3 linked regions of the Homo sapiens genome follow. The protein of the gene in region 1 interacts with the protein of each later gene in a pairwise test. Each region holds a gene or a part of one and is shown on either strand. Other genes may lie near its edges. The genes, in order: TESMIN, FNDC3B and NRF1.

What was found.
Region 2: the proteins of TESMIN (region 1) and FNDC3B interact in binary tests that used the Homo sapiens proteins (3 or more experiments, as listed by UniProt).
Region 3: the proteins of TESMIN (region 1) and NRF1 interact in binary tests that used the Homo sapiens proteins (3 or more experiments, as listed by UniProt).

What each region holds. Positions count from the first base shown.
Region 1 is NC_000011.10:68,737,808-68,741,560, reverse strand, and holds part of TESMIN (tesmin), read left to right. Parts: intron 1-2,772; coding exon 2,773-2,861; coding exon of another isoform or gene 2,862-2,865; exon of another isoform or gene 2,866-3,675; coding exon of another isoform or gene 3,676-3,753.
Region 2 is NC_000003.12:172,042,578-172,046,330, reverse strand, and holds part of FNDC3B (fibronectin type III domain-containing protein 3B), read right to left. Parts: intron 1-3,753. UniProt on the Homo sapiens protein: May be a positive regulator of adipogenesis.
Region 3 is NC_000007.14:129,656,621-129,660,373, forward strand, and holds part of NRF1 (nuclear respiratory factor 1), read left to right. Parts: intron 1-722; exon of another isoform or gene 723-725; 5' UTR 726-731; coding exon 732-954; intron 955-3,753. UniProt on the Homo sapiens protein: Transcription factor that activates the expression of the EIF2S1 (EIF2-alpha) gene. Links the transcriptional modulation of key metabolic genes to cellular growth and development.

The sequences.
Region 1 (3,753 bases):
CTCCTGCAGCTTACATTTTACTGCAGGAGATAGACAATTAGCAAATCTAATAGGAAGCCAATTACATCATCTGTTAGGAGAGCAGAGGAAGCGGATTGGGGGGATGGGGATTTGATGGGGAAAAAGCCTAGTTGCAGGTTTAAAAAAGGTGATCATGGCTCCGTTGTGAAGGTGACATTTGAGCAAAGCCTTTAAAGAGATGAGGGAATGAGCTCTGTGAAGCAAGCTGTGGAACATCCCAGGCGGGCCTTGGATAGGGTCATGCCTGCTGTGGTGGCAGCGAGGAGGCCACTGGGCCTGGGATAGTGTGAGCTAGGGGAGCAGGGCAGGGAGGAAGTCAAGGCACTGGGAGGATTATGGCTTCCACTCTAAAGAGGGGCTGGTGGGGAGGAGGGGTCAAGGAGAACGGTGAGCCTGTTATGGCAATAATCTCGGGGAGAGATGATCGCTCAGATCAGGTGGTGGCAGTGGAGGTGGCAAGAAATAGCTTCTAGGGATACTTTGAAGGTTGAGTCAACAGGATTTGCTGATGGATTGGATGTGGGATGTGAGAGAAAGAGAGGAGTCAAGGATGCGCCCAAGGTTTTCAGCCTGGATGATTGGAGAGATGGAGTTTCCATCAACAAAGATGAGATGGTACAAGTTTTTCAAAGGCGTCCAGGAGTTCCGTTTGGATATATTAAATTTGGGATGCCTCAGAAGATGTTGCGTAGGAGTTTAGAGTGAGGAAGGGCTGGGCAGGAGGGATGAGATTGGGAGTCCTAGTGTATAGATGGCGTTGAAAGCCATATGAATAGATGAGATCTCAAAGGAAGTGAGTGTAAATTGAATTAGATATTTGTTGAATGAGTGAGTAAATACTTCTCAAGTGATACATTGGCCAAGATAAAAGAGAGTGTTATCAGTGCAGGAGGTGAGTGTAAGTCGGGATCTGGCGAGCACGCAGATGCAGTCTGTGTTGGAACCTCATAGAATCCTCCTACCGTCTGGCCCCCTCCACGCTGCTGGCCTTCCTTTCTCTGCTGTTTCAGCCACCAGTCCAGAAGGCACACATTGTACTTGCTCTTTCACCTCTAAGATCTTCCATGAGAAACACCCATTTGGCCACAACTTGCTGTCTCCCCACCTTCCCCCACCTTTCCTTGACTGTTTATTATCGTCCCCATTTTGGCCCCTTATCCAGCATGGACCTCAAGGACAATTCTTTTAGCAATGCATTTGCTGCTTCTCGAGAATCGTTTGCTTCCTTGCCAGACCCCAGTTCTGTATATTCTTTGGAGTGTTACCACCCAAAGTGTGGTCCATGGACCAGAACTGTTGGGATCACCTGGGAGCTTGTTAAGAAGTGCAGAACCTCAGGTTCCACCCCAAACCTGGGATTCAGACCCCCTGAATCAGATTTGCATTTTCATAAAGGCCCCAGGTGACTTGTGCACACAGCAGAGTCTGAGAAGCCCTGCCTCCGAGTTGACTTCCTTCACTCCAAGAGGACCAAACATTGCTGAAGAAACTCGTGGATTCCAGCATAAAGTTGCCCTGGATTTACAACCTATGGAGTACATAAGAGATGTCTCTGCTTTACTTTGGGGCTAAATAAGCAAAGGGGGAAAAAAAGTAATTTTACCTGGTTTATGCGAATAATTGCCTCAATCCTGAGAACTATGACATCCTTTCTCCAAAAGAATGCAAAACTCTTCAGACTGACATTTGAAGACAGGGGCCTAACAATTAGGTGTCCAGGTGAGGGCAAAAGGGACACCTGTCTCAGGGCCTTGTGAGCACTCCCTTCTGTGCACGAGCAAGAGGAGAGCAGGAAGGGGTTTCCCGGGAAGAAGCCTGGGGACTTAAGACTGATTGTAAATGAGGCAGTGGGACCCAGGAGGCTTTCTCAGTGTCTTCCAGCCGTAATGGATGGTGATGACACACAGTTTAAACTGGGCACAGAATGGAGGAAGTGCAGAGGATGAATACAAGACGCATTTTTTTTCTAAGACTATACTTCTTAAAGCTTTAAAAATAAATTTATTTAAAGATACATTTCCATTTTTGGACAGAGGAAGGGACAAGGATATGAGGTTTAATTGTGATATATGCAAATAATCTGAAAACCTAATTGTATTTAGTACTGTTAATTTCTTCAAGCTACTGAGTAGAAGAGAAGTAGGCCAGTGATGGCTTTGCTGCCTGTTCCTTTCCCTGTGAACAGCCTCCACAGGCCATGCTAATGAGTAACATAAAGAAAGATGAGACCTGGGAAAGCAAAGAACATGGACAATGCAGAGATGATGACATTGCTTTTGAATTTGTTAAAACTGGTTACAAAATATTTTTTTGAATACATGAAAAATCATGGTTGCCAACAAGACTTCAAATGTCAAGATCTGTATAAGAACATTTCTAGTTTATGGAAATTTGTCATTAAATTTATTTCATAATTGATAGTCTATAAAAATGAAAAGGAGTTCCATGACAATACCCCTGGCCAGCTGAGTGACAGCTATGGACGGCCTCCAGCCCGTGGAGGCCAGCCCTGCATCTTTGCACACTTCCAGACATCTTTGCACACTTCCAGACAGGCTGTGACACACCTCAGCACTAGACCTTCCGAATGTCAGTGGATTCCTTGTGGTAATAAGGCCAGACATGGTTATAAAGGGATGGTGATGTAAACCTTTAGGGAAAAAAAGAATCATTTTTATCTAGGGGGCTGGCTGACTGGAACTTTAAAAATCCTTGCTAATTCAAAATATCCTTGCCTTTGACTTTGAACAGCTTGAGGGAGCCTTACCATCGGTAGTCAACGGGTCTGCTTTCCCCTCGGGATCAACTCTTCCAGGACCACCAAAAATAACTTTGGCTGGGTAAGGATTAGAAGCAATACATTGTCACTCTAATGTAATAATTTAAGAGACTCTTGGATACGTTCACGATTTTCTTCTATACTATAAAATGAGCTTCACTGCACACCTTCATGACTTCTGAGAAATGTTTTTACCATCAGCAATGCCACTAACGGTGTTGCTGTCTGTGTCTGGTTTCACTGGGGCTGCAAAGGCTGCTGGAAAGTCTGGCCCATAACCTGCATCTGTCCCTGTCCTCCTGTCCGCTGTCCTATGTTGGTGTTTCTGAGGCTTGTTGCCATTTATAGCTCTTTGTCTTCATTCCATGTTGATTCAAACTGTACTGGCCTCTCTTTTTTGCTGTCGTCCGTGGAAATAATGGTGTGGCAGCCATGCAGCATGAACGGGGGGCTGCAGAGTGCCCTCCAGCTGCCTCCGCCCGCTGCCTTCCATGCTGAGTTGGCTCGAGCTCTATGGCAGGTGCTAATGCATGATCTGTCTTCACATCTCCAGGTGGACATAGGCTGCACTTATCTGGGACCTCATCTTGCTATTTCTTGCCTGTCTTGTGTTTATAATCTTGCTATTTCTTGCCTGTCTTGTGTTTATAATTGTTGCTAATTAAACTAATCAGCTGGTTGAAATTATCAGGTTAACATTTATGTATTAACAGTGGTTTGGGCAACCCTCTCCATTCGTTGAGCCCTGTAGTTGATTATGGAGATCAGCATATTCCTGCCTCCAAGAGGTGTTTGTTTGTTTGTTTGTTTTTTCTTGTTTTTTGTTTGTTTGTTTGTTTTGTTTTTTTGAGACGGACTCTTGCTCTGTCACCCAGGCTGGAATACAATGGCATGATCTCTGCTCACTGCAACCTCCGCCTCCTGGGTTCAAGCAATTCTCCTTCCTCAGCCTC
Region 2 (3,753 bases), on another chromosome or scaffold:
AAATTAGGAGCCAATGTCTAAACTGACACTGAGTAGTGAGTGCCAAGGGCATCAGAAATTCTGATCCAACACTTACAGAATGCTAAACTTGCATATCTTAACTGGGGAGAAACAAAGAAAAATTCAACAATCGATCCATTTTCAAACTGACAAACATCCTCATCTGTATGTAGATGGCTGATCACGACTGTCTATCGATCTTATGTGATTTATACTTGGTGGTTTTAAAAACATTTCTGTCCCCTGATCTTCAACTGGCACCCCACATACCTTCTGTTTCCAAGAACTGGTCCTTGACATTAAACCTGCACCACAAACAAACTCCCCTCCAGGTGAGCTTGTTACTAGGGTCTGGCATCTCACTGGAGGTACCTTGCAAAGTGCTCAACTACCATCAAGTCATCCTTCCAGTTGGGCCTGTGCTTGTCTACCTGCCCCTATCTAGCCACAATAATTCAAGCATTCTCTCCCTCTTTACAACACATAATGCCATAACCATAATATATATTTTAAGGCAAAGTGTATATATATATATAGAGAGAGAGAGAGAGAGAGAGAGAGAGACACTCAGTAAACTAAAGTACAAAGCTTCTCCTCAACCACCTAAGTGAATTCTCAACAGCCTTAAGAGTGAGAATTAATTTACTTGAAAATAATGTCTTACCATATAAATATCCCACTTAATGGATTAACCTCGTTAACAAGAAGAAAAGGCAATTGTGATTTCTAAAGTGGAAAGGCAGGTAGGTTGCAAAGACTCCCCTACACTGAAAATACGATTCTTTTCCATTCTCAGCTGTAATTGCTGAAAGCTCAAGTAATAGGCTAAGGTAACATACAAGGCCTAAAACCTTATTCCTTTATCATTCAGTACTGAACGTTCCTCTAAGAGACTGCACTTTTTCCCGCCACCTCAAAAACAGCCCTGAATCAAGCCTGGCCTGCCCACTTCAGCAACACTAGCCCAGCTACAGACCAGCTTCCCAAAAACACAGATATGGGACAACTTATGTATAGTACAACTTTGCAGAGGTCACAAATCACCTATTCCATTAGGAGTGGGGTAAAATAAAATACAACATCTAAAGCTTGGACCTTGTTTACTGATCACAAAGAGAAAAATAAATCATTTTTCAAACTGTCCAAGCACAATTTGGAGGTCTCTGAAAATGTGCAGAGAAATACCATAGCACCAGCTCAGTTTTAAACTCTGGAATATAATGAACTATGGAGTTTGTATAAGGCTTTGCCAAACACTTCTCAATACACTGACTCATTAATCCCTTGTGACACCATTTGAAAAGGTACGAGTTAGATCTTTCCTCCTTATATTAAAATGAGGAAACCCAGACTCAGAGAGATTCAAAAGCTTATCAAGGACCCAGCTAGAAAGTAAAGTCACTCCTTGACAGAGGAGATATTCTGATTTCAAACTGATGCTCAGATGTGGCCCTCAATTTTTGTCCATCATTTAAACATCTTTATGCCTTAAGATTATAGTACATTTCTCATTTGTATTAAGCACTTGGGGATGTCCTACAAATCAAACCATATGTCATGGGTTAAATCATGTTTCCTATATTTGTCACACTCACTAGGACACTATAATTCTATTTATAACATGGTTCTTATCCTGAAAATAGTACAGTGGTATCTTATCCTTGAAAATAGTACAGTGGTCCCAATGGTCAGGAATGGGTATGAACAGGATGTTTCAGTTATCTGAACAGTCTCAGTAACTGACGCCTTACCTGCAGTTGAATTAACGATTTTCAAAGAGCTGGAAGCAATGTAATTCACATAACACTAAAATAACATAGAACAATTCAAAGATAATTTACAGACATAGGTCCTCCAGGATATGTCTAGAGTTAAGACTATGAACTGCAATTATCCCAGGACAGTACCATAACTATGGAAGATACAATAGATTCAGATATATTTATACTGAACCTGGCAGTTGCCTCTTAAAAATCCTAATAAAAAGAGATTACATTATAATTTGCCTTTTCCTGAGGGTAGCACACCAAAAAAAAAAAAAAAAAAAGAGTTGGAATTTTCACTATTCCATACAAAATCAGAAAGTTGTTGAAATTCCTTTTAGCAAATGAAACTCTAAAATTCAATGAATTTAAATTAAATCCACTAATCAGAAAATGATTTGAACATCTGCCATCGGACAGATCTTTCTTACTGTTTTAATCTTACACATATTCTTCCCAATTCATGGATGAATCCAATGTGTTTGATATTTGATTTCTATACACTGAGAGTAAAAGAATAATTTTAATTCTTCAGGTTACTTCTGCAGCTACATAAGGAAAAGTGAGTAATGGTTTACTGATACTTACAAAGTCTGAAAAGAACTGTCCAATGAACGGATGGACGCGGGTATGAGAGGATCGTTTTTTTCAGCTTTCTATTAGTGACTTTTCATATTGCTTCCTATTTGTACTCTTATTACACTAAAATAACCAACAAGTTCTGACTACTTTTTCAGCAATTCCTATGCACAATTCCTATATTAAACCAAAAAAGATACAATTTAAAGATTTTTCCACCAGTTTTAACTATGACATGTAAACATTGTTTTTAAAACCAAAGAGTTAACAAATAATGTGCGTATTTTATCCACTCTACATATGAAAGCAAAGTTGAGCTATAGCTAACTCAGTCTTTAAATTCCATTTAAGGGCTGAATGTAACTTCTGATATCGTAGAAGAAAGAAAAATGAACTAAGAGATCTAAAGAGCAGTATGCAGCCTGGACAACCTAGTGAGACCTGTCTCTACAAAAAAACAATAATAATAATAAATAGCCTGGCATGGTGGCGTGCACACCTGTAGTACCAGCTACTGGAGAGGCTAAGGGGAGAGGATCACTTCAGCCTGGGAGGTGGAGGCTACAGTGAGTGAGCCAGTGATCATGCCGCTGCACTCCAGCCGGGGTAACAGAGCGAGAGTCTGTCTCAAAGTAAAATAAAGAGCAATATGACCAAGCTACATGTGAAAGATTTGGGAGTCAAAAAGTTCTACACTTTGCTCTCCAATATGGTAACCACTAGCCACAAGTGGAAATTTAAGTTTAAAATAATTACAAGTAAATAAAACTTAGTCCGGGTGTGGTGGCTCACGCCTGTAATTCCAGCACTCTGGGAGCCCGAGGCGGGTGGATCACCTGAAGTCAGGAGTTCGTGACCAGCCTGGCTAACATGGTGAAAACCCGTCTCTACTAAAAAATACAAAAAATTAGCCGGGCGTGGTGGCAAGCGCCTGTAATCCCAGCTACTCGGGAGGCTAAGGCAGGAGAATCGCTTGAATCCGGGAGGCGGAGGTTGCAGTTAGCCGAGACCGCGCCACTGCACTCCAGCCTGGGCTACAGAGCGAGAATCCATCTCAACCAGCAAGGCGGAGGTTGCAGTGAGCCGAGATTGCGCCACTGCACTCACTCCAGCCTGGGCGACAGAGCGAGACTCCATTTCAAAAAAAAAAAAAAAAACTTAAACTGTTGTTCCTCAGTCCACTAGCTACATTTCAAAGACTCAGTTACATGTGGCTTGTGGCTGCTATGCTGGACAGCACAGACAGAACCATTTCCAACACTGAAGAAAATTCCATTGGATGACACCATTGGTAGCTACGTGATCTTATGCAAGTTACTCTCTCTCTGTAAATCTCAATCCCCTTGTTTGTAAAGTGTGCATAACACAACCTAAATCGAAAATACTAGAATTTTAATGAGATAATGTATAA
Region 3 (3,753 bases), on another chromosome or scaffold:
CTGGAGTACAATGGCACAACCTTGGCTCACTGCAACCTCTGCCTCCCGAGTTCAAGCACTTCTCCTGCCTCAGCCTCCCAAGTAGCTGGGATTACAGGCGCCCACCACCACGCCTGGCTAATTTTTTTGTATTTTTAATAGAGACAGGGTTTTGCCATGTTGGCCAGGCTGGTCTCGAACTCCTGACCTCAGATGATCCACCTGCCTGGGCCTCCCAAAGTGCTGGGACTACAGGCACTTGCCGCCATGCCCTCAAGAAGCAGTTTTATAAGCAGAAAGACCAATTTGAATTTTTGGGAAAAAAGTTATTTGACTCTCACTCGTCTTTGACATACAAAGAAAATGTTAAGTATTTCACTTATTTACTAAGTGTTCTTATGTTCACAAGGCCAAATGCTAGTCACTGAGCTATCTTAAGTATGTTTTTATTGTTATATTTGAATGTCTTTTTATTATTAAGGGTATCTGTTGTTTTGTGATCTGAGGTATAAAATTAGTACAGCGAATTTCCATCAAAATGGTTTCACGTAAGAACACCACTCTGTCATTTTTATGTCACATTTGCATGGTGCTTCCCATTTCCTGTGACTTGGTGTGGCACGGTAAGTAGTGAAATTGGAATTTTGTCAAGGTTCCTCTGCTCTTGAATAAAATATCTCTTAGTTTAAACATTGTGTTATATTACACACTGAATCCTGTTCTTTTTCTTTTTTGTCTGACAGTAGAACTTCATGGAGGAACACGGAGTGACCCAAACCGAACATATGGCTACCATAGAAGCACATGCAGTGGCCCAGCAAGTGCAGCAGGTCCATGTGGCTACTTACACCGAGCATAGTATGCTGAGTGCTGATGAAGACTCGCCTTCTTCTCCCGAGGACACCTCTTACGATGACTCAGATATACTCAACTCCACAGCAGCTGATGAGGTGACAGCTCATCTGGCAGCTGCAGGTAGTGTTGTTTGGATTAGAAGCTCTTCTTTAATTTTTTTTTTTTTTTTTTTGGAGACAGCGTCTCACTCTGTTGCTCAGGCTGGGGTGCAGCAGCACAATCATGATTCACTGCAGCCTTGATCTTCCGGGTTCAAGTGATTCTCCCATCTCAGCCTCTGGAGTAGCTGGGACTGCTGATGTGTACCACCACATCTGGCTAATTTTTGTATATTTTGTAGAGACAGAAATGTCACTGTGTTACCCAGGTTGGCCTCAAAGTCCTGGGCTCAAGCGATCCTTCTGCCTCGGCCTCCTAAATTATTGGCATTACGGGTGTGAGTTACTATGCCTGGCCTTTATCACAACTTTTTTAAGCCTTGCAGTTATAACTTGAGCCTGTATTATACTGAGACTTGAGGTCTGTAATCACTTACTATCAGTGTTATGGCTTTGGTTTTATTTTTTCATCTATTCTGCCTATGTTTTGGCTTTAAACTGAAGCATTTATTCCAATTACGTTAAACAGAATCACTGACATGTATTTAGATTTAAATTTACCTTCTTTTCTATATGCTTTCTCTTTGCCCTACCTGTTCTGTTTACTTTTCTCTTTCTTGGCGTTTTCTTTTGTAGTGATTGAAAATTTTGTATTTTTTCATTTTTTTCTTGTTAGTTTGAAAGTTATAAGCTTTTACTATTATCAATACCTGTAGAAATTGTAACATACATCCTTTATTTATCAATGCCTTATGTTGACTAGGCTCAGTGGCTCACACCTGTAATCCCAGCACTTTGGGAGGCCAAGGTGGGAGGATCACTTGAGCCCAGGAGTTTGAGACCAGCCTGGGCAATGTAGTGCAATCCCATCTCTACCAAAAAAAAATTAGCTGGGTGTGGTGACGTGCTCCCTAGTCCCAGCTACTTGGGAGGCTGTGGTGGGATGACTGATCACTTGAGCCCAGGTGTTTGAGGGTGCAGTGAGCTATGATTACACCACTGCACTACAGCGTGAGTGACAGAGTGAGAGCCTGTGTCCAGTTGAAAAAAAAAAAAAAAAGGAAAAGCAAAACGTTGTATGTACTTGGAACTTTTAACCTCTACAGGGATAATACAAATTTCTTAGAACACTTGCATTTCATGCGCCCATCCTATATGCTATTGTTGTCCTTTGTATTCATTTTTGGTATACAGTTGGCTCTCTTTATCTGTGGGCTCCACATCTGCACATTCAACCAATTTTGATCAAAAGTATTAGGAAAAAATTAAAAGTAACAATATAACAATTAAAAATAATACAAATAAAAGGCCAATACAACAACTATTTGTATAGCATTTACACTGTATTAGGTATTATAATATTAGTATTAGTAACCTAGAAATGATACAGAAGGACGTGAATAGGTCATGTGAAACTACTACACCATTTTATATCAGGGACTTGAGCATCTACACATCAAGATGCTAGAAACAATCTCAAGAGGATTTGAAGGGACAACTGTATTTTAAACACCACAGGACTTTTTTTTTTTTTTTTTTTTTTTGAGATGGAGTCTCACTCTGTCGCCCAGGCTGGAGTGCAGTGGCACAATCTTGGCTCACTGCAGCTTCTGCCTCCTGGGTTGGAGCAACTCTCCTGTCTCAGCCTCCCGAGTAGCTGGGATTACAGGTGTGCGTCACCATGCCCAGCTAATTTTTGTGTTTTTAGTAGAGATGGGGTTTCACCCTGTTGGCCAGGCCGGTCTTGAATTCCTGACCTCGGGTGATCCACCCATCTCGGCCTCCCAGAGTGCTGGGATTATAGGCGTGAGCCACCGCATCCAGCGAACAATATTTTTATTTAAAAAATAATGTTAATTTTTTTTCCTGCATCTCCAACTGGTCTCCTGAGATGGTTTTACTTCTGCCTAAAGACACCATTTAATATTTGCTTTAACATGGATCTGCTAGTAACAAGTTCTATTTTTGCTTGTCTGTGAATGTTTTTACTTAAACTTCAACCTTGAAGGATGTTTTCACTGAGTATGGAATTCTAGCTTGGTGGTTATTCTTTCCTCATGTTGAAGGTACTGTTCCACTGTCTTCTGGATTCCATTGCTGCTATTGAGAATTCAGCTATTTCATTCTAACCGCTACTCTTTCAAAGATTATCTCCCACATGGCCTGCCCCCCTCTCCCGGAAATTTTAGCCATGAGATTTTGCTTCTGCTGCATTCCATCTCTTTTCATTCCATGGCTCCAGTTACTTATGTTAGTCTTCCTCACTTGTATGTCTCTTAACCATCTGTTCTGTATGTATCATCTTTCTGTGTAGTTTCTTCTGTCTTTCAGCTTGTGAAAGACAGAAGATTTTCTTCTTTAGCTGTTGTATTAGTCCATTTTCATGCTGCTGATAAGAGATACCCAAGACTGGGAAGAAAGAGGTTTTAATGGACTTACAGTTCCACCTGGCTAGGGAGGCCTCACAATCATGGTGGAAGGCAAGGAAGAGCAGGTCGCATCTTACATGGATGACAGCAGGCAAAAAGAGAGAGAGCTTGTGCAGGGAAACTCCTCCTTTTAAAACCATCAGATCTTGTGAGACTTATTCACTATCACAAGAACAGCATGGGAAAGATCTGCCCCCATGATTCAATTACCTCCCACCGGGTCCTTCCCACAACATGTGGGAATTATGAGAGTACAATTCAAGATGAGATTTGAGTGGGGACATAGAGCCAAACCATATTATTCCACCCCTGGCCCCTCCCAAATTTCATGTCCTCACATTTCAAAACCAATCATGCCTTTCTAACAGTCCCCCAAAGTCTTAACTCATTTC